Regions from separate parts of the Homo sapiens genome. Here all the other regions are linked to region 1. Evidence: fine-mapped expression QTL. A gene starts in region 1. Each other region holds a variant in brackets. All regions are shown on one strand. Distances are from middle to middle.

Region 1 (4,488 bases):
TCCTTGACACATGGTACTATAAAAGATTAATGCTTTTCAGAGTAATTTTCTGTGAAAAGGCAATAAAAATCTGTGTTTGGTCATTTTTTTTAAAGTGGCAAAGAAATGAACTTACTTACGCATACTAAAAACTATAGCACTGGGGCCAGGCATGGTGGCTCATGCCTATAATCCCAGCACTTTGGGAGGCTGAGGTAGGAGGATCACTTGAGGCCAGGAGTTTGAGACCAGCCTGGCCAACATGGCAAAACCCCGTCTCTACTAAAAATACAAAATTAGGCATGGTGGTGGGCACCTGTGATCCCAGGTACTACGGAAGCTCAGGCACGAGAATCACTTGAACCCGGGAGGCAGAGGTTGCAGTGAGCTGAGATTACATCACTGCCCTCCAGCCTGGTCAACAGAGCAAGACTGTGTCAAAAAAACCCCAAAAAACAAAAAAACTATATTGGCAACACTTTTTAAGCCTTAGATAACTATTCACCTATCCTCAATTTTGGAAAAAAAAAAGTATATTAAATACATAAAGATATTCTAGAACTCAGTTCAAGAGTTCAAATACACTATAACGAATATTTAAAATATTTAGTTTTCAATGCATTGTAGTTTAGTGCATAGAAGTTATTTACTTCTGAAAACTGATGACTGACATATGACAAACTATTTCTACTGCTTGTATAGCTACTGATTTTCTTGAGAATATTTGGAACTGTGTAGTCTGAATTTCTCCAAAGGATTGGAAAAAAAAGTCACAACCTTTACCCCTTTTCTGAAAACACATCTGATATCTCACTTTAGAGATTGGAATATTCAGTCTCCGTGGTTGAGAAGAGAAGTCACAAAGTCCACTGAACTCATAGCATCACCATATCAAAGTCACACTGATGGCACATTGGTGTCTACCTCTTTCATGCCAGCAGGCTACGAAAATGGCAATGAATTGCCATCCAAAGAAAACAGAAATGGTAGTGGAATTTGGTTAGCACTGGGCCCAAGGCTGATTGCATCTAAATTAGGCTCTAAGGCAGATAGCATCTGACTACTTTAACGTTCCAAACACCATCTTATCCATACATTAAGTGCAGCAAAAAATGCATGGGTGACATGAAATTTAAACAAAGTTCTAATTTCTTAATATATGGAAGCCAAATTTAACAAAATTCTACTTTCATGAAATTTCATAAGAATATCCTTGAATTTGGAATATTTAGACTTAATGATTCTATCACCAAAACTTAAGTAAACTAAAGATTTAAAAAAATTAAGCCAGTTATGACAGAATATGAGATCCTTTAGGGAACTTTTCTGTTTGAATTAACGACAACAACAAAAATTTAAGTAAAACTTTAAAAAGACCATCCAACTTCATCTGTCACGATGGTTCACAGAATACCCATAACACGATAAAGCCCTTAGAGTTAATTTAATTTAATTTTTTTTTGAGACGGAGTCTGGCTCTTTCACCTAGGCTGGAGTGCAGTGGTGCGATCTCAGCTCACTGCAACCTCCACCTCCGGGTTCAAGTGATTCTCCTACCTAAGCCTCCTGAGTAGCTGGGATTACAGGAGTGGGCCACAACGCCCAGCTAATTTTTGTATTTTTAGTAGAGATGGGGTTTCACAATGTTGGCCAGGCTGGTCTTGAACTCCTGACCTCAGGTGATCCATCCGCCTCAGCCTCCCAGAGTGCTGGGATTACAGGCTTGAGCCACCACGCCCAGCCCTTAATTTTAGACAACGCAGAAAAACTGGCTCCAGATACACTTGGGTGACTTGGTCAACATATGAATGTTAACCATGATGTGACAGATCAGACTTCAATTTCTTTAGACTGAACTAGAATGGCTCCGAAGACGAAAGTCAGGTCAGGACCAGGGAGAAAAACTGGGCAAATACGATTTTTTTTTTTCCATTTCCAACAGAGGTTTGAAGATTAGAACCAGGATTTGGGAAGCCTCAGTTCAGGAGTCCACCGAGGTGTGTGTGTGTTGACAGGTGGTGGTGATGCCGAGGGCGTGTTGACAAGTTTTCCCCGCCCTTGACCTTTAGCCTAGATATTAATTCTACCAACTGGGGCAACCCCAGAGGGAGGAAGCCAGGGTCCCCCAACAGGCTGACAGCGCGTGACCTTTGCCCTAGATAGCCTGAGAAAGCTGATGAGAGAAGGGGCGAGAGGTGCCTACAGCCCCCAGGACCGGCCTTGTCCCTTTTGCCCTAACTCCTCCACTTATCCCCACCGCCCGTTTCCTCTCACCCAGGCAGGACAGCTTGGCTAGCGGCACCAGCATGTTCAAAGTCACCAGGACTCTCGGTCGGACACAACAGGAGGACTGTCCGCTGCTCGCGGCGGGCGCTGGACCTCTAGGCCGCGGGGGGCGCCATCACCTGCCGGAAAGCAAGAACTCTGCTGCAGTTCGCCTCCCCGCTCTGCCGACCGCTCTTGCTTCACGGCGTTCCCACCTCCTTCTCGCTCTGCGCCGGCGCCATGGATGACGCAACGGCCAGCCGAGGCTTCCGGGTCATGTACCAAACCAGGGAAAGATAAGGGACTCCAAGTCCCAGCCGGGGAGCGGTGAAACAGCCACAGCGCGGCCAGAGGGGTCCGCGAATCCCACAGCACGACGCACGCGCAGTGAAAGGCAGTAGAAGGCGGGGCGACGCACACGGCTTCCTGGGAGGTGTAGTTTTCTCTACGAGTGCCCTTCGAGATCGATTGGAGGCTCGCGCAGGAGCCGTGAGTTGCCTAAGGTGAATTGACTCATATGATTGGCTGTCCCGAAAAATGAAACGTCTTTGTGGTCCGGGGCTGAGACCCACGAGGAGACTGGGCGGGATTTCTGGCGTTAGGAGGCGGGGCCTTTCGGCTTTGGGCGCGAGTGGTTAAAAGACAGTTGGTGTCGGTTCGGCTTCTCGGGTCGGATTCCGCGGTCCCAACCCTTCCCCATGGCCGACCCTGAGGAGTTGCAGGTTTCTTCGCCGCCCCCGCCGCCTCCCTCTTCTCCCTCCTCTTCAGACGCCTCTGCAGCATCTTCCCCGGGCGGCCCAGTGAGTTTGGGCTGGCCAGTTCCGAGCAGGAGCAGCGGCCCAACGGTGGACCAGCTGGAGGAAGTGGAGCTGCAGATCGGAGACGTGAGTGTGGTGTCGGGACCGCGTCCCCCCTCGGCGCCTCTGGGAAGACCGGCGGCGGCGGGGCTCGCGAGGCTAGGGAATCGGTCCCCCAACCCCCATGACCCGGGACGACCGGCCCTTCTGCGCCCCAGAGCGTGCGGGCGGGAAGCGGGGGGGATGCCAGCAGCTAAAGTGCCACCCCTCTCTGAGGGTTCCCCCTTTAGATTTAGTGGTGAGGAGTCTTAAGGGGTTTTCCTTCCACCCGCCCCACCCCTCACTGGTTTCTTTTTGTCTCGCCTTCTGGTTTCAATCATCCGCAGTAACCCGAAGCCACGCAGCTCTGCGCTGCCTGTTGCTGGCTCTCTGCCTCCTCCTTTCCCATCGGAGAATAGTTTTCATTGCATGGGTTTCGGAGAATAGTTTTCACTGCATGAGTTTGCTGGCTTTCTGTGGGTACTTGAGATCAGGCTGTGATTTCTTTCCATGGGACTTAGAGCCTGCTGTTCTAGTTGGCCACCTGCCCAGGGACAGCTGATAATGCCATTGTCTGCCCCAGGCCTGCTTAGCGCTGGACCCAGCTTGAAGGGTTTAGGTCACGTGGATTGGCTTCTTTGACGGTTTAGTTCAGGACTCCTCCCTTTGTATGATTGCTAGAATGCATACTTAGGATAGTTTCTGTTAAATCTCGAATCCCCAGAAACTAGCACCCCACCTCCCAACCGTAACTCACACACCACTGGAGGGGAGAAGACAGGGAAGGGGAGTTTTATGTTCTCTTGAGTGGGTCAAGTGGAATGAGGTATGTAGAGTGTAACCTGGGAGAGTTCTGTGGCCTGACCTTTCCTGCAGATTGGAAACTAGGGGATGAACTAGATTATCTCATTGCTCCGCAAGTATTTTTTTTTAAGGATGACTAGAGTGCTTAACCAGCTTTTATTTTTGCAGAACAAACTGATTGCAAGTAAATATGTAGAATGAAGTGCTAATGTGTTATTGAGGAACACTGTTTTATTTTATATCATTGGTGAAGAAAACGTTTGGCTGAAAAGTGAATTTTCCACCAGGAGCTGAGTGTTTTCTGCATTTGTGTGTGATTTTTTAATGTTATTTGTCAGAGCTCAGAGTTTCTGTTCTTTGATCTATACATTTTCATTGTTTAAAGTGTTCACAGGTCAATGCCCATGTTACCCAAATAGCAGTAAGAATTATTTATGATGAAATCTCTCAGATATATCTGGCGCTTAGTGTCAAGGGGTCCAAGTCATCTTGTTGAGCTGAGACTCTAGTGTATTTTCATAGAAAACAGCAATCCTGGGCCAAGCACGGTGGCTCACGCCTGTAATCCCAGCACTTTGGGAGGCTGAGGCAGGCGGATCACCTG
Region 2 (4,488 bases), 33 kb after region 1:
TGCCAAAAAATATAAACGATCTTTAGTGTATAAAGAGCTATAATAAGAAAAGATAAAAACCTGATGATTACAATTTGTCCTGTCAAGCTCAAGGTCAATTGCTGATATTTCCCCATTCGGTTATATCCATTTATTCTGTAAACCATGAAGGACAGGAGAGCAGAACATGAGGAAAGAAGGAGTGTTGATTGGTATTTTACTATGTGTCTTAGGCTGAAGTTTTGCTTTTATCAACAGAATTATAGTAACTCTGTTTGCCGCTTTGGCTGCCCAGCACTCAATCACTCTTCTGATAATAGTGTTCTGATTTCCTTTGAGAGAATTACTTCTCCCTTTTTGAGAAGTTATGGTGGGACCTTCAGTGGAGGCAATCCCTAGCCCAGAGTAGGTAAGTACCCTAGACGTGATCAACTAGATTCTCTTCCCTGAAACTGAATCTGATTGAATGACACTTGGATGGATAATTCCAGAGGCTATAAATTATTCCTCAGATTCTGTGTTATACCATTTTCTTCCAATAAATTCTGTTCTGTTTAATTTAGTCAGATTGCTTTATGTTGCATACAAGAAAGGAATCTTTTATAAGCCATCTTTCTGAGGAACTATGGAAAACAAAAACAGGGTTCTGTGTTAGACTTAAAATACAAGCAAGATTACAGAGTTGATGGTAGCTGACAGTATCTAAATTATTGAAAATTAATTTCCATGGCATGGATCATTCTAATAACTGCTATGAAATTGCATTCAATTAAAAAAGTGCTTCTAAAGCATGTAATCACAGGTACAACTAGACATACTCTTTGAATAAAAGATGTTTCAAAGTTTACCATTTCATCCATGCACGCTTGCTTGAATCATGCCTTGATATATGGGGATATTTTCATTGAGAAAGACTTCTTCTTAACTACCTTCATTTGCAGCATTGATTTATTTATAATTATTTTATATTGCCTATATAAATTCCTTCCTCTTCATCTGGTAGCACTTGTACCATGTGATATAGTTTGGATATTTGTCTACTCCAAATCTCATGTCAAAAGTTGATTCCCAATGTTGGAGGTGGGGCCCAGTAGGAGGTGTTTGGGTCATGGGGTAGATCCCTCATGAATGGTGTGGTGTCCTTCCTGCAGTAATAAGTGAGTTCTCCTTCTATTATTTCACATGAAATCTGATTGTTAAAAAGAGCTGGCACCTCCTCTTCTCTCTCTGGCTTTCTCTCTCGCCATTTGACACACCTACTCCCTCTTTGTCCTCTGCCATGATTAAAAGCTTTCCTGACGACCTCACCAAAATTAGAGGTTGGTACCATGCTTCTCTTACAACTTACAGAACTGTGAGCCAAAATAAACTCTTCCTTATAAACTACCGAGCCTCCGATATTCCTTTGTAGTAATGCAAAATGGACTAACACACCCTATACACCAATTACTAGCTCATTAGGCAAACATCAATATCTGTGAACAGTTATTAGAGCTGAGGAGAACTTCTTACAAGACCAAGTGGATTCCCCTCACATCATGTTTCCTGAGATTCAAAAAATCTCCTATGAGATTCTACCAGACTGTGGAAAACTAAAATCATCTCACCCAATATCAAAGGTTTAAGAGTTTTAATTATTGTTTAGACATGTCTCAGTCCACTTGGCTGCTGTAACAAAAATACCATAGACTGAGTGACTTAGACGACAAATGTTCATTTCTCACAGTTCTGGAGGCTGGGAAGACCAAGATCAAGGTGCCAGCAGATTCAGTGTCTGGTAGGGGACCACATGTTTCATAGATGGCCATCTTCTCTGTCTGTCTTCACAAGGTGGAGGGGCAAGGGTCGTCTCCAGAGTCTCTTTTCTTTTCTTTTTTTTTCTTTTTGAGATGGAGTCTCACTCTGTCGCCCAGGCTGGAGTGCAGTGGCACCATCTTGGCTCACTGCAACCTCCACCTCCAGGGTTCAAGCGATTCTCCTGCCTCAGCCTCCTGAGTAGCTGGAATCACCACCA[C/T]GACTGGCTAATTTTTGTATTTTTAGTAGAGACGAGGTTTCACCATGTTGGCCAGGCTGGTCTTGAACTCTTGACCTCAGGTGATCCACCCACCTCGGCCGCCCAAAGTGCTGGGATTACAGGCATGAGCCACTGGCCTGGACCAGAGTCTGTTTTCTAAGGGCACTAATCCCACTCATGAGGGCTCTGTCCTCATGACCTAGTCACCTCCCAAAGGCCCTACCTCCTTGTACCATTGCATTGGGGTTAGTATTTCAATATATACATTTTGGAGGAACACAAACTTTCAGTTTATAGCTGGCAAATTAGTAGAAAATATTAATAGATTGGATGCATTATCATAATACACATGGAAACAAATATTAACATCACAGTGAAAAACAATAAAATATCTACTTACATGTGAGAGAGATTCATAAGAGGTCTAAACATCCTTTGTTGGATATTTGAAATTTCAATCCCTTCTAGGCTGCTAAAAATATCAAATTAATAATCAATCAAAGGAACATGTATTATACATGGTTTAATAAATTGAGTTTCTGTGAAGGACAATTTAATAAAATGCTTTTAGTTAACACTTACTCTGAACAAAATAATTATACTCAACCCACCCACTTCCCCAAATCCTCCTCCTTCTGATTGTGTTATTTATACACGTATTATCTTCCTTATTTGATTTTTTTCAGATCCTCACAGATCATGGCACAATGCTTTGTGCATTTTAACTAATCAATAAATATGTGTGGAATAAATGCACAAGCATTATCTTTTGTACAATATTACAATAGCAGAGGATGCTTTACATCCTTGAAAATTTCCTAGTAATTTTTAATTAATAAATTTTTTTCTAATAAAATGTCATTTTACTGAGGGAACACTCAAATTAAATGAACTGAAGCTTACCTTTTTTTTTTTTTTTTGAGACAGGGTCTTCCTCTGTTGCCCAGGCTGGTGTGGTGGTATGAACAGGGCTTACTGCAGCCTCAACCTCCCAACTCAAGCAATGTTCCCACCTCAGCCTCCCAAGTAGCTAGGACCACAGGTGCATGCCACCACACTCAACTAATTTGCTTATTTTTATTTTTTTGTAGAGGCAGCATCTCCCTATGTTGCCCAGGTTGTTCTTCAACTCCTGATCTCAAGCAATCCTCCTGCTTCGGACTCCCAAAGTGCTGAGTTTACAGGTGTGAACCACTGCACTCAGCCCTGAAGCTTATCTTTTAAGGCAATTCTTTGGCTCTAACAGAATTTTTGTCTTTTTGTGTGTGTGTGGTACAAGTAAGGATTTATATAATCTAGCATATTCCATCTTGGGGTAAAAACACTTATAATAAATTATAAAATACCCAGTGTTAAGAGAGTGAATATGCACAGATGTCTTTGAAGGGTCAAAGCAAACAAATCAACATAAGCTCCTAATGACTTATAGAAAAATATAAAATAATTCATCATTATTTTTTAATTTACAAGTATATAAGATAAAACTAATAGTTGTCTGTTTATAGTTCAGCAAGCACCCATATGTTTTTGTGGAGCTAAACTAATGTCTTGGAAATAAAGCTTATGATTTGAAGTAAATATATAAAAATATACATTGTTAGTATTTAAAAAACAATTTTATCATAAAACTATCCCCATATGTGAATACTTACAGAGACTTGAGTTTGACAAGATAATCAAATTGGTTTGCTTGAATTTTCTGGATTGGATTATAGGAAAGATTCCTGTTTTTTAAAAAAAGCAGCAATAGGTCATTTCTAAAAACTACATGAGTAAAGCGAGTGAATCTGTTTATTTTGGGTTACTTTAACATATTTATGAACGAAAGTATACAATAACTCGTAATGGATGAAAGACTTAAACTGTAAAATTATAAAACGACTAGAAGAAAACATAGGTGGAAAGCCCCAGGACATTAACCTGGGTGATGATTTTTTTGGATATTGCCCCAAAAATATAGGCAACAAAAGTGAAATAGATGAATGGGATTACATAAAACTAAAAAGCCTCTGCACAGCTAAGGAAACAATCAACAGAGTGAGGAGACAACCTGTGTAATGGGGGACAATATTTGCAAATCATATATCTGGTAAGTGGTTAATACCCAAAATGTGTAAGGAACTCAAACAACTCAGCAAGAAAACAAATAAGCTGGTTAAAAATTAGGGAAAGGGCTTGAATAGACATTTTTCAAAAGAAGACATATAAATGACTAACAGGTATATGAAAAAGTGCTCAACATCACTAATCATCAGAGAAATGCAAACTGAAACCACAATATTACCTCACACCTTTTAGAATAATTTTTATCAAAAAGATGAAAGATAAGGGTTGAGGATGATTTGAAGAAAAGGTTGCCCCTTGCATACTGGTGATGGGAATATAAATTAGTACAACCATTATGGAAAATAGTATGGGGCTTCCTCAAAAATCAAAAATTGAACTACTACATGATCCAGAAATTCCTCTACTGGATATATATCCAAAGGAAATAA
Region 3 (4,488 bases), 37 kb before region 1:
TTTGTTCTCTGTCACCCATGCTGGAGTGCAGTGATGCAATCAAAGCTCACTGCAGCCTCAACCTCCTGGGCTCGGGTGATCCTCCTACCTCAGCCTCCTAAGTAGCTGGGACTACAGGCCCTTGCCACCATACCCAGCTGATTTTTAAATTTTTTGTAGAGATGGGTTTTTGACATGTTGCCCAGGCTGGTCTCTTAACTCCTGGGCTCAAGCTGTCCACCCGCCTTGGCCTCACAAAGTGCTGGTATTATAGTTAAGAGCCTCTCTGCCCAGCCTCGATCTCTTTTTGACCTGTGAGGCAGGTAAAATCTGAGTATTGGCCATTAAAAGATGTTACATAAACAAAAGATAATTTTAAAATGTTTGTTCTAGGGGAGAGACCTGATGCATAAAGTCTCTTAGGTTAAAAGACCTGTTGTAGGTAAGAACCTAGGTTGGGTATGGTGGTTCATGCCTGTAATTCCAGCACTTAGGGAGGCCACGGCGGCGGGCAGATCGCTTAATTCCAGGAGTTTGAAACCAGCCTGGGCAACATGGTGAAACCCTGTCTCTAAAAAAAAAAAAAAATTAGTCTGGTGTGGTGGCACATACCTGTAGTCCCAGCTACTTGGAGGCTGAGGTGGGAGGAGCACTTGAGCCTGGGGGGTTGAGGCAGCAGTGAGCTGTGATCAGGCCACTGCACTCCAGCCTGGGCCACAGAGTGAGACCTTGTCTTAAAAAAACAAAAAACAAAAACTTAAGAGTTTATAACTTAAGAGTTATTAAGTTATTAATGTTCCTAAAAAACTTATAATTCAAGTAAAAAGTGTATACAAATGTTTCTTCAAAATGATTTTATCTTAAAAGTGTTAGTTCAGGCCCATTCGGGAGATTGAAACCACAGTGGGGAGCATATTGGAAACTAGAGAAATGTCTTTCTCCTCCATGTCCATTCAGTGCCCTCTGCTGACAAAACTTAGTGCCCACTGGCAGAGGAGAGCTATTTGCATGTTTCAGCTCCATTTTCACAGAGCAGTGAAGGATGGGTTTGGAGTTGATAGGCAATGAATTGAAATCTGGCATATAAGCTTAATACTTTGATATAAATACTAGCTTTATACTTTTTTGTAGGCTCTTGAACTAGACCCATCAAATACCAAAGCATTGTACCGCAGAGCTCAAGGATGGCAAGGATTAAAAGAATATGATCAAGCATTGGTAAATTTTGTTCCAAATGTTTAATTTTTTAAAATAGACAACTACCTTTATAAATCATACACCTAACTTAAATGTTTTTTTCCAATTAAAGGCTGATCTTAAGAAAGCTCAGGGGATAGCACCAGAAGATAAAGGTAAGTTGGCAGCTTTTGTAGTGAAAGTTAATTTTGTTATTTAAATACTTATCCTCAGGAACCATTGTTCACTTTGCCAGATTTTAGATGTTTGTTCAACAGACACTACAGAATGCCTGCTGTTGGGCCAGGCATTATCATATAGCAATGAACAAGACAGTCAAAGTCCCTGCCCTCAAAGAGCTTACATTCTACTCCCATTCAAGAATATAGTAGTTTTTCACGTTATTTATTCTTCAAGTTATCATCTCTGTAGTTTTTTATATGTCTAAATACTGTTTGTCTTATGGTATCCTTTGAGACTGTGTTCCTATTCTGGTTAGTCTAGTCGAGAGCTCAGCATTGTAAGACACAGTATTCATGGTAAATTTAACATTTGGGACCATTCAAGTTGAATGTGGCTATAACCTTAGTATTGATGTACTGGTTATATGTTTTAGGAAACTATGACAAAAATAAGCTTGTTTTTCAAATAAACCAACTATGAATAGTGACACTAGATCTGGGTATTACAAAATGTCTTTGGTCTCTTATTACTAAAATGAAACAAGGGAAGCAATTACTGTTCTCTAATGTAGAGGCAGAAGGCAAATCTTGATGTACTTGAGTTCTCTCAGTTGACATCCTCTAAAATTACGTTTCATTTCTGTGTTTGTGTGATTGCTCAGATTTTCTGTTACTAGGGCTTAGTTACTTTGTAGAGAAGTTTTTTCAAGGGGTAGTTAACATTAAAATAGTTTGTTAGTCACCATAATTTTTTGGATATTTTGAGAAATAACTCACATTGCATATTTATTTTACAGCTATCCAGGCAGAATTGCTGAAAGTCAAACAAAAGATAAAGGCACAGAAAGATAAAGAGAAGGCAGTATATGCAAAAATGTTTGCTTAGAAAGGATTCAGTTTTGCTTATTGTGTGTTGATTGTATAAATGCAATAAGAAAATGTAAAGGTTTTTGTCT[A/G]TGAATATGATCCCTAATGTGTTTCTTTTGACACCTTAGTTCCTTACTGTTTACAGTTTAGGAGTACTGATAGGGGTTCATGCTTAATAAACATGTCACAATACAGTAAGTAAAGTGGTTTTGTTTGTTTCTTTGAGATGGAGTCTTGCTCTGTCACCCAGGCTGGAGTGCGGTGGCGCAATCTCGGCTCACTGCATCCTCTGCCTCCCGGGTTCAAGCAATTCTCCTGCCTCAGCTTCCCAAGTAGCTGGGATTACAGGCACGTGCCACCACGCCCAGCTAATTTTTGTATTTTTAGTAGAGATGGGGTTTCACCATATTGGTCACGTCACGTTGGTCTTGAACTCCTGACCTTGTGATCCACCCCGCCTTGGCCTCCCAAAGTGCTGGGATTACAGGTGTGAGCCACCGTGCCCGGCCAAGTAAAATGTTTTTTAAAATGGTTATGTGCATTATTCATAAAAAATAATGGTGTCCAGTCTTTTTAAACTTGTAAAGACACATCTTATTGAATAAAGAGATGAGAGCTTAAGTTTGTATATTGTTTCCTTCGATTCTTTGATGTATCCATGGTGGATGATGCTAGGTTTTCATACTTATAGATAATACACACACACACACACACACACACACACACACACACACAAACTTGTTCAGGGATGGGCATACTTCTTCTGCAAGGGCCAGATCATAAAGTTTTTAGGCTTTGTAGACCATGTAATGTCACACCCACTCACCTGCACAGTTGTAATTCAAAATTAGCCATAGACAATGTGTAACCAATGGGTATGGCTGTGTTTCAATAAAACTTTAGTCTAGAATATATATTCATTTTTATATTTGATTACTTAACTTTGGCAAGTCAAATGTAAAGTCCAGTAGTGAATTTTGCTCTTGGTACTGAATCTCTGAAGAACTGAAGAGGTAGGAAGATGCTGCATTCTTATAAAGGTTATTTAAAAGCAATACCCGTAATTTCTTTATGGGACAATCTTACATATAGTATAAAATTTTTATTTGATAATCATTTTGTGACTATTCTGTTCAGTAATATGCAGAAAGACATTCTGAAATCTGTTAATCTCTAAACATTTTAACGTTAGCTTGCCATACTTGAAAGAAACTGGCTAGCTGCAGTTTACATTCCATTGTAAGCAGGTCCTCCTCCACCTTCAGGTACCACCCAGTTAATATTCTGACTTGGATCTTTAATATCACATGTTTTACAATGTACACAGTTCTGAGCATTTATCTGTAACCGAAATCCATCACCTTGTTCCACAGGTACAAATTCATAAACTCCTGAAAAGTAAAAATAAATAATATTGAAGTGCCTAACTTTAAAAAATTTTTAAATTCAAAAGTAAAAATTAAGGAAAGAGTAGCCACAGAAACCTTAAAGGTTGCTTTCTGAATGCTTACCCATAGAGATTATGAAGACCTTGGTGCATTGCTATTGATGTGAGTGTAAATTACATGTACATAATAAAAGGAGGTACAGCGGTATTCAGCTGAGTTGTCTCACTATCAAGGGTACTCGACACTGAGTGTTTGAGTTCCACACAACCTCGAAGTCCTCCCTTATTCACAGTCATCCTCTCATTCACAGGGGACAAGTTCCAAGATCCCCAGTAGACGCCTGAAACCTCAGGTAGTACTCAACTTACATTGTCAGTCAGAACACGTTTCTGTTCATGTATTTCACCCACAAATGTGATGCCTTTTCCATCTTAAGGAAGCACTTGCCACACTCTGGCCATAACTTCTACAGTTCGAGGTCCAACAGCAAAACGCACAAATTTCTTTTTCCTCTTTCACAGAAGATACAGTCTTACCATAGACCTTAGCAACCTCAGCATAGGATTTTTTTCTCTTTATAGAGAACTTTCTCCTTTCACTTAAAGGAAGCACTTTATGGCATCTCTGAATTGTCAGCATCACTACTCTTGCGTTGTGGGGATATTTCTAAAGGGTTACTGGACACAAGTATGATAATGTGACAGTAAATCTGATAACTTAGATGGCTACCAAGTAACATAACGAATGTTAGGTGTGAATATGCTGGACAAAGGGATAATTCACATTCAGGGTGGGGCAAGCCCGAATGGTACACAATTTAAAACTTAACGTGCACAATTTAAGACTCAAGAATTATTTGTTTCTGGAATTTTCTTATTTTCAGACCGTGGGTGACT
Region 4 (4,488 bases), 65 kb after region 1:
TCACCCTCCTGAGTAGCTGGGACTACAGGCGTGTGCCACCATGCCCGGCTAATTTTTTGTATTTTTAGTAGAGACAGGGTTTCACTGTGTTAGCCAGGATGGTCTCCATCTCCTGACCTCGTGATCCTTCCACCTCAGCCTCCCAAAGTGCTGGGACTAATGATTATTTAACTAGAAATATGTGGCATCTTTAACACTCAACAACACTCCAGCACTATAGAAAAGCTATGAAAAGAGAGGGAGGACACTTTTAAGTTTACTCTCCAGTTCTGTACTGCCTTTCAAGAGCTTCCTCCACATTCACTGAACATTAAACCAAACAGATAGTGTTTAGTAAATTTTGCAAAGATATATGGAAAGAAGACAGTCAGGAGCCTGAAGAGTGAGTCCAATATTGATTCTGGGTACTTTGCTAAGACATAAAAGAGCAGAGATGGGGTAGAAGGGGAGAGGACATGGCTAAAGTGGTTACTGTTAAGGCTTCGAGTCTCCTGCAGTCTTCTTCCATTTTGCTAGTAAATTACTAGGTGCTCTTCTCGACTCAATCCCAAACTCTGATACCACAAGCCAAAAATCTGACTGGAATGGGTTTCTTGCGTTAGGATACAGAACAGTATAGGTGGAAAACAAGGGGACATAAATGGAAATACAGGGAGTTATGTATTCATGTGATTTTTGGTTATACTTCTTTCCAGTTACTTCTAGAATGCTGCATGGCAGAACTCAATAAAACGGAACATTGAGAAAGCCTTTTTTTTTAAAAGAAGCACAATGAGATACCATTCACACCCATTAGGATAGTTATTGTCAAAACAAACAAATGAAACGAGAACACAAACGTTGGTGAGGATGTGGAGAAATCGGAACTCTTGTGCAACACTAGTTGGAAAGTAAAATGGTACAGTTGCTGTGGAAAATAGTATGGCAGTCCCTTAAAAAATCAAAATCAAATCAAATGACAGTCCCTCAAAAATCAAAGAATTACCATCTGATTTAGCAATTCCAATTCTTGGTATATACCCAGAAGAAGTGAAAGTGAAAGTGGGGACCCAAACAGATATTTGTATCCCTGTGTTGATGGCAACATTATTCACAACAGCCAAAAGGTGGAAACAACCCAAATGTCCACTGACAGATAAACAGTTAAACAAAATGTGGTACATAAATACAATGGACTATTATTCAGCCCTAAAAAAGGAAATTCTGACACATGCTACAACACGTGAACATTAAAGACATTGTGCTAAGTGAAATAAACCAGACACAAAAAACTACATATTTTATGATTCTCCTTATATGAGGTACTTAAAGTAGCCAATTAATAAATACAGAAAGTAGAATGATGGTTGCCAGGGGCTGGGGAGAGGGGGAAATTGGGAGAGACAGATATGAGGAATTATTATTCAACAAATATGGAGTTTCAGTTGGGGAAGATGAAAAAGTTTTGGAGGTGGATGGTGATGATGGTTCCATAACAATGTCAATGTACTTAATGCCACTGAATGGTTTACTTAAAAACAGTTAAATGGTGAATTTTAGCTTATGTATATTTTACCACAAAAAGCTTTATTTCTTTAACCTTACAGTATTTCATGCATTTGTAAAAGTGGGATTAGTGAAGAAAGAGTAATTGAATAACTGGGGAAGTCTTTGGGTTTTTTCTTCTTCATCACAAATATCATCATCAGGCTTTTTTTTTTTCTTTGTCAGAGACAGGGTCTTGGTCTATGGCTCATGCTGGATGCTGGAGCTATTCGGGAGGCTGAGGCAGAGAATTGCTTGAACCTGGAAGGCGGAGGCTGCAGTGAGCTGAGATTGCGCCACTGCACTGCAGTCTGGGTGACAGAGAGACTCTGTCTCAAAAAAAAAAAAAAAAAAAAAAAAAAAAGAAAGGAATACAAATTGCTCAAGATCACACACCTAGTAAGTAAGGCAATCAGGACTTGGACTGAAGCCTGTCTAACTCACAATCCTATGCTCTTAGCCACGGTGCTCTACTGCCCCTTCAGCATCACTTGCATGGCTCCTTGGTACTGTCATGGACAGGGAGGCTGGTCTGGATTGGAATAGTCTAGGCTGTCAGACTACCATGGAATGGGCAAATTAATTCACACTGGTACTTACAGTTTAGTAAGGCTATTCAGTCCTCTGAAAGCATAGATGGAGATGGATGTAATCTTATTGTTTTGCAGGTACCTGTGAAAATGATTATTAAAAAGAAAAAAAAATGAAGCAGAGTTTCACTTTTGCAAGACAAAAAGAATTCTGTGGATGGATGATGGTGATGGTAGCATAGCAATATGAATGTGCTTAATGCCTCTGAAGGTAGACTTAAAAATGGTTAAGATGCCACATTTTATGTTATGTGTATTTGATGACGATTAAACATTTTAAAAATTGAAAAAGGTAAACATTACAAAATAATTTAGTGAAGCCAGATATCATGTCACTTCATGTTTCTGTTAAATTTATGTACAATTAGGCTGGTTTGTATTTAGAAATTCTAGTTATAAAGATGAATGAATAACAGCCAAAGCTTACTATTTGAATTTTCTAGAAATAAAATGTTAACACATAGTAAAGCCCTCATAAATCAGAAGTCTAGAAGCCAGACTTTTAATACGGGTCTTGTTATAATTCTTTAAACTTGTTAAGTGCTCAACACAGTGCTAGCCAACCTAAAAGTGTATGATGTTTTTAATGTCCCAAACCATATTCTATGTTAATCACAAATCTGTCAACCAAATCAATTTTGATCTCATTAATTTGACATCCAAACCTTGTTCCAAAGACTGTTTGGAGGAAATTTATAAGGAGTAAAAGTGGCAAAAGAAAAAAAACATAAAAATAATCAG[G/C]ACTAGAAGAATATAAATTAGATTGGAATGTCAAGACAAGAATGCAGGCTTACATAGTTAACTAAAGTAATACTGAAAATACGACCTTGAGTTAACTGGAGGTCAAAGGAAATGGGTACCAGAGTATACGCTATTGCATCATTGCACCCACACAAAGTTTTGCACTTCTATGTGTACTTGCCCCAGATTGCGGGAATGATAAAGTAAGGATTTCAAGGCTGCCTTCATGTTCTGAGTGCAGGTCACCATTGTTCTTTAGAGTGTCCTGAAAGTTTATATGCAATTTGTTATAACTTTTAGGAGCAATAAGAAAGAAATCAATATGAGCGAACATTCAGTTAAATTATAAATTTTGACTGAAAAGTACCCTATTTCTCCAACATGCAAGAAAACCTAACTTTGATTGTGAAATGTTATTATAAAATTTATTATAGGCTGGGTGAAGTGGGTTATGCCCATAATTGCAGAGCTTTGGGAGGCCAAGGCAGGAGGATCATTTGAAACAGACCAGCCAGGCAGGGCAACATAGTGAGATCCTATCTCTCTAAAAAAAAAAAAAAAAGGAGCCAGGTGTGGTGGCACATGCCTGTAGTCCTAGCTACCTGGGAGTCTGAGGTGGGAGGATCACTTAAGTCCAGGAGTTTGAGGGTGCAATGAACTATGATCATACTACTGCACTCCAGCATGAGTGACAGAGTGAGACCCTGTCTCTTAAAAAAAAATTATTATGCACCTGAACCGGACATGCTGTGGGCCCAATCATGTAGTAGGTAATGAATGGTTCTCATTTATCATGCATTTGTTTGTTTATTTCTAGTGTTATAATGATCTACTAAGGAATAGGCTGCATTGCCTGGAGGTCTAAAGGTATAGACTTTTAATAACCAATTAGAAATTTTTAAATAATTAGGCTATTTTGATCATTTTGTTATATGGAACAAATTGGTCATTCAGGAATTAATTCATCCACATTAGTATGGTGGTTAGTTCAAAAAAGAGAATTAATTCAATGTTTATTGTGCAAAAATGCTAAGCCACTGCATTATATAAACCTGAATTTTGATATTTAGATTTGTAGTCTAGCTCCTTTAAATAAGTGGACACAAGGTGATGCTACAGAAAAATTCTTCAGTCTCCAGAAATCAGAAAATAGAATAAGTCAGTGTACTCTTGAAGTTTTGTCAGGCCTAATTGTGAAAAGTTCTTCTCTTTTGACTGATAAATGTTCAGAATGAAATTTTGAAAAGTTATTTTCATTAGAATTTCTATTTTCAAATATGAAATAGATACTTCTGCAGACTATCTGGGTTTTTAGAACATTTCACTGAAGGAAGTGGGTTAATTCTTCTTCTGATTCCACTCAATTTCCATCTGTTATCTTTAAAAATGTACAGATATATATTAATTTATCAGGTTTCCCTATTGTAAAACCAAAATAAGAACCAATCTATATTGGTATAAAAATGAAACAATGAATCCTGAGATATTTCTTAGTTAGTGTGATTTAGGTACAGACTATCTAAACCCAGCAATTCACCATATGACAACATAATTTAGTCACAAAGTAGACCTAAATAACAGGTAAACATCCCGTGGGCCAGTATGGATTTTGAGAGTTCTGAAGGGAAGCTAG
Region 5 (4,488 bases), 47 kb before region 1:
GATCCTTAGTGTAATGTTTCAAATCTGTTTATATACATACATGACAGTAGGTAGACTAAATTTGAATATTAGAATAAAATAAGATTCACTAATTCTAGTGAGTATATTCAAAGGAAATGAAGTTTGTATGTCAAAGAGGTATCTGCACTCCCATGTTCATTGCAGCATTATTCATGATAGCCAAGATAATGGAATCAAACTAGGTTTCCATCTACAGATGGATTTTTTTTAAAATTTGATATATGTGCACAGTGGAGTACTATTCACCCATAAAAAATAATGAAATCTTGTCACTTCTGACAACATGAATTAATATGGAGGACATTATGTTACATGAAATAAGCTGGGCACAGGAAGACAAGGCATGATCTCACTTACATGTGGTTTCTAAAAAGTTGACCTTGAAGTAGAGAATGGAATGGTGGATTTCAGGGGTTGGGTAGATGTTGATCACGAGAGACCTAATTTCAGTTAGAAAGGGGGAATAAATTTAAGAGATCTATTGTATAACATAATGACTATAGTTAGTAGCAATGTGTTGTGTTCTTGAAATTGCAAAAAAGAAAAATTACAGTAAAGGGGAACTTGGTAATTCATGATTGATCTGCTACCATAATTATACCAACCTTCTTTTTATCATTTGTCTATTTGGTTGTTTTGCATACTGACAAGATTTTCTTTTCTTTTAGTTGGTCGAATTGTCTTAGAATTGTTTGCAGATATCGTACCCAAAACTGCGGAAAATTTTCGTGCACTGTGTACAGGAGAAAAAGGCATTGGACACACGACTGGGAAACCTCTCCATTTCAAAGGATGCCCTTTTCATCGAAGTATGTGTAAATTTTCTTAATCTTGTTATTCTTCATACAGACAAGTCCTGTTCTTTAGGATTTGGGGAAGAAAACACTAAGTAGGAAGTGAAGCTTAAAAAGTACTATTAGCGTCCATGTCTGAGGCAGTAACGCAGTTTCGTAAAGGTTAGGCTGTGCGAGGTGGAATTACTTATGGTACTAAGGTTTATCTATAGAGAAATGGACTCCCCTAGCTTTACCCATCCTCTCATTCTCCTTCACTCTAAGATGATTTGATTGAGAAAGGAAGGCCGTAGTCAACCAACCTTAGGTAGCTTCATTGCCTGGTGACAAAAAAGTTATGCATAGACCGGGCGCAGTGGCTCACGCCTGTAATCCCAGCACTTTGGGAGGCTGAGGCGGGTGAATCACGAGATCAGGAGATCGAGACCATCTTGGCTAACGCGGTGAAACCCCGTCTCTACTAAAAATACAAAAAATAAGCCGGGTGTGATGGTGGGCGCCTGTAGTCCCAGCTACTCGGGAGGCTGAGGCAGTAGAATGGCATGAACTCAGAAGGTGGAGCTTGCAGTGAGCCGAGATCACGCCACTGCACTCCATCCTGGGCGACAGAGTGAGACTCTGCCTCAAACAAACAAACAAACAAACAAACAAACAAAAAAATGCATAATTTTTGGGCCTGAGTGCTTGGGAAGGCAGCAGATTTGAAGATTCAGTGTTTTGGGCACATGGGTGATAGTGTGGTCAAAATATGCCATTTCATACTGCTTATTACACTTTGTAATGAATCATACTTTTGTTTAGTGATAATGGTTCTCCCAATAGACTGCAGGCTCTATGAGTTCAAGAACTGTATGTTTTCACCATTTTGTTTTTGGCATCTAATACAGTTATTGAGTAAGAACTCAGTAAGTATTTGTTTAATAAATAGGCAAATAAGCAATAATCACAAGAGCAACATTTTTTAAACGATTTATTAAGAAAAAATTAACTTTTTAAAAA[AT/T]ATTTAAAATGTTTACTTTCATGTTTAATAAAAACTTGAAATATGCTAATAAACTATATGCAGAAAATATTTAACATAGCAAGTGTGAGACTGCTATCTTTAGAAAGGTCTGCCTGCAAGAGTAGCACTTGTTTGGAGTCTGGGAACTTGACACTTGTACCATTTCCTAAATAGTAATGGTGATTTACTATGCCTAGCCTATTTGTACAAACATGAATGTGTGCTCTCTTTTGGGGAGTCTGGAATTTTGGTACATGCTAGGTAGAGTGTGCCCAATAAATACCTTGGGTGCTGAGTCTCTAATTGGCTCTCCTGGGCAGAAATACTGTGTACATGTTGCTGCATTTTTGTTGCTGGGGGAAGTGTGTGTTCTGTAGCACTTCATGGGACGGAGAAAGCATAAGGAAGCCTGCACATGGATTTTTCCAGACTCTGCCTGTGTCTTTCCCGTCATCTCGCTGTGTATCCTTACCACTGTGATCCAACCACATACTGATTTGTGTGAGCTCTAGGGTTCTCTGAACATGAAAGCAATCTTGGTAACCTTTGACACAAAGTGATATATTTGCTGAAAATTTTCCATTAGGGTAGAACAAATCTACTGGGAATCATTGGTCTGTATTCAGCAGACATTATTGAGTAACTAATATGTACTATGTGTACATGCACATAGTTATAAGGATGTAAAACAATACAGTTGGTGTACTTAAGGAGATCATTGCTGGAAGGGGCAGATCATAATGCCATATGTTATGTAGGCAGAGTCAAGATACTATGGGAGAAAAATTAGGACATACAGCTTAGGGATTTCAGTGACAGTTTTATAGGGGAGGTATCATTTGAACCGATTTTCTGAATGTTAGCAGGGATCAGGCAGTGAAAATAGGTTGGATTCAGATGGTGAAAAGCCTGAAGCGTTTGGAGTTGCGGAGACGGGTGGGGAGCGACAAACAGGAGAGAGACATGACTAGAGTCATGCACTACAAAGTTGTCTTACGTACGTATCCATTAGTAAGCATTGCTAAAGGCATCCATGTCTCAGTCACTAATAGCCATTTTCCTTTTTTGTAGTTATTAAGAAATTTATGATTCAGGGTGGAGACTTCTCAAATCAGAATGGGACAGGTGGAGAAAGTATTTATGGTGAAAAATTTGAAGATGAAAATTTCCATTACAAGGTAAAGTAGAGAAAATGCATGTTATTGCTGATAAAAAGATTGTTATATATCTGGAATACTTGTTGGATTAAGACACCAAAAAATGTTTCAAGTGTGCTTAGATTCTCCATTTCTTGTAATAGGAATCACTTTTGTAAATAATGGTTCTTTAATATGGAAAAGTTTTCATTCAGTAATGATTAATTCAGCATTATTTCATTGTGATCCAGTTTTTATATGCTTCAGTTAAGCCAGTGAGTTTTTAAATGCGACCAGCATCTGGCAAAATTGTTTCCAGGAAAAATGTTTCCATTGTTGGAAGGATGGTAACTTGTGCATCCTTATCCTTGAATTTGAAGAGCAACAAAACCATCACTAATATCCAGGATGTCAGGGGATTTGCACACTAGCAGATATAGTTAAATGTCCAAGCTCCTAAAGGACTTCAGTGGTGCCTGTGCCTTCTTGTCTTCGTTGTCCCAAGATGTAATTGGGGTATATTGCATCATTCAAGTTATAAGAATGGACATGTAAGTACAAAAGTAAAGTGATATTTTTGGAAATAAGGAATATGAGCAAGGGTATTAGGATAATTTGAAAAAATGTCGTCAGTCTTCCAGTCAGTGTTTATTGAGCCACTATCACTGGCACCAAAGGGTTTATAAAAATGAAAGGCCTTGATGACAAGGAATTTATAATCCTACCTCAGAGACAAGATTAAGATACATGGGACTACTGGAGAATAATAGTATATAAATAAATGCTAAATTGATTGAATATCCTTGCTTGTATAACATTGCTAATACTGTCTATATACTGCAGGAGAAAGATGTGATTTATGCAGTCTGAATTATTATGGAAGTCATTGAGGAGGAATGGCTACTTGGGCTGTGCAGACTGGGTCTTGCAAGGCGGCAACATGTCTGAGATTTGGTTAGGCAGGAACTGTAGTATTGATGCAGAATTTAAAAAGGGACGTCGGTGAGGAAAGACAAAGGCAAGAGACGTTGAGGAAATAAAGTTCTAGTTACTGTTGTACCAAAGGAAGCTACCAGAAGGATGAAAACTAAAGGTGATGTGATGATCACATTGACATAGAGAAAAGGGGCCTATAGACAAGACACATGATTCTTGCTTTCTATAAACGTGGTGGCCTTAAAATCTGAATTTGATTTAGACTGAGGGGAGTAAAAGGCATTTTGGTGGGGTGGGGGGTGTCATGAAACATTATATAACATGAGAGTTACGGTGCATGCACCAACAAGGAATACATTTAGAAAGCCTAGGAGATAAAGTGAAAAGGTTAAGAAATTGGGTTTCATAGATCCTTTGACAGGATTATGCCAAGGTAGAATTTTGATTTCAAGATGTATGCAGCAGTTTCTTTTGAGCACTCTCCGAAGAGGTGATTCATCTGGGATGAAAACCTAATCCAAATCCTGTATGATTTGGATTCTTTTGAGATTAGGAAAGTACCAAACTGAATGTCTTGGGTAAATTCAGTATCCCATTATTG

Alleles and levels. Alleles are on the strand shown, and positions count from the first base shown. SD is a standard deviation of normalised expression in the study named. Not every link is listed here.
For the expression in unexposed skin of the gene that starts at base 2,448 in region 1, allele T in region 2 goes with a higher level than allele C (small effect, 0.38 SD a copy in GTEx).

What was found. PIP is the estimated chance that this variant, and not a neighbour inherited with it, causes the effect.
Region 2: its variant is the best candidate, but not a certain one, in a credible set for the expression of ETFDH in unexposed skin (GTEx, PIP 0.82).
Region 3: its variant is the best candidate, but not a certain one, in a credible set for the expression of ETFDH in tibial nerve (GTEx, PIP 0.76).
Region 4: its variant is the best candidate, but not a certain one, in a credible set for the expression of ETFDH in whole blood (INTERVAL, PIP 0.62).
Region 5: its variant is the best candidate, but not a certain one, in a credible set for the expression of ETFDH in spleen (GTEx, PIP 0.72).

The regions. Positions count from the first base shown.
Region 1 is chr4:158,670,256-158,674,743 of GRCh38, reverse strand. ETFDH (electron transfer flavoprotein dehydrogenase) reads right to left here and starts at 2,448. Exons shown (of 13, transcript NM_004453.4): 1 at 2,254-2,448. The coding sequence starts at 2,287. It overlaps C4orf46 (chromosome 4 open reading frame 46), which reads left to right and starts at 2,857. Exons shown (of 2, transcript NM_001008393.4): 1 at 2,857-3,128. The coding sequence starts at 2,943. RefSeq lists enhancers at 2,100-2,601, 2,203-2,762, 2,605-3,241, 3,242-3,878 and a silencer at 3,183-3,252.
Region 2 is chr4:158,637,237-158,641,724 of GRCh38, reverse strand. RXFP1 (relaxin family peptide receptor 1) reads right to left here. Exons shown (of 18, transcript NM_021634.4): 13 at 3,646-3,717; 14 at 2,394-2,465. Among named protein-coding and RNA genes, the nearest start is that of C4orf46, 32 kb to the left of the region's middle. The variant C/T (reference allele first, on the strand shown) is at 1,994.
Region 3 is chr4:158,707,471-158,711,958 of GRCh38, reverse strand. ETFDH (electron transfer flavoprotein dehydrogenase) reads right to left here. Exons shown (of 13, transcript NM_004453.4): 13 at 2,336-3,595. The coding sequence ends at 3,432. It overlaps PPID (peptidylprolyl isomerase D), which reads left to right. Exons shown (of 10, transcript NM_005038.3): 8 at 1,111-1,197; 9 at 1,289-1,331; 10 at 2,135-2,832. The coding sequence ends at 2,223. Among named protein-coding and RNA genes, the nearest start is that of PPID, 14 kb to the left of the region's middle. The variant A/G (reference allele first, on the strand shown) is at 2,294.
Region 4 is chr4:158,605,680-158,610,167 of GRCh38, reverse strand. RXFP1 (relaxin family peptide receptor 1) reads right to left here. Exons shown (of 18, transcript NM_021634.4): 6 at 2,125-2,196. Among named protein-coding and RNA genes, the nearest start is that of RXFP1-AS1, 43 kb to the right of the region's middle. The variant G/C (reference allele first, on the strand shown) is at 2,856.
Region 5 is chr4:158,717,685-158,722,172 of GRCh38, reverse strand. PPID (peptidylprolyl isomerase D) reads left to right here. Exons shown (of 10, transcript NM_005038.3): 2 at 690-830; 3 at 2,887-2,993. Among named protein-coding and RNA genes, the nearest start is that of PPID, 3.5 kb to the left of the region's middle. The variant AT/T (reference allele first, on the strand shown) is at 1,815.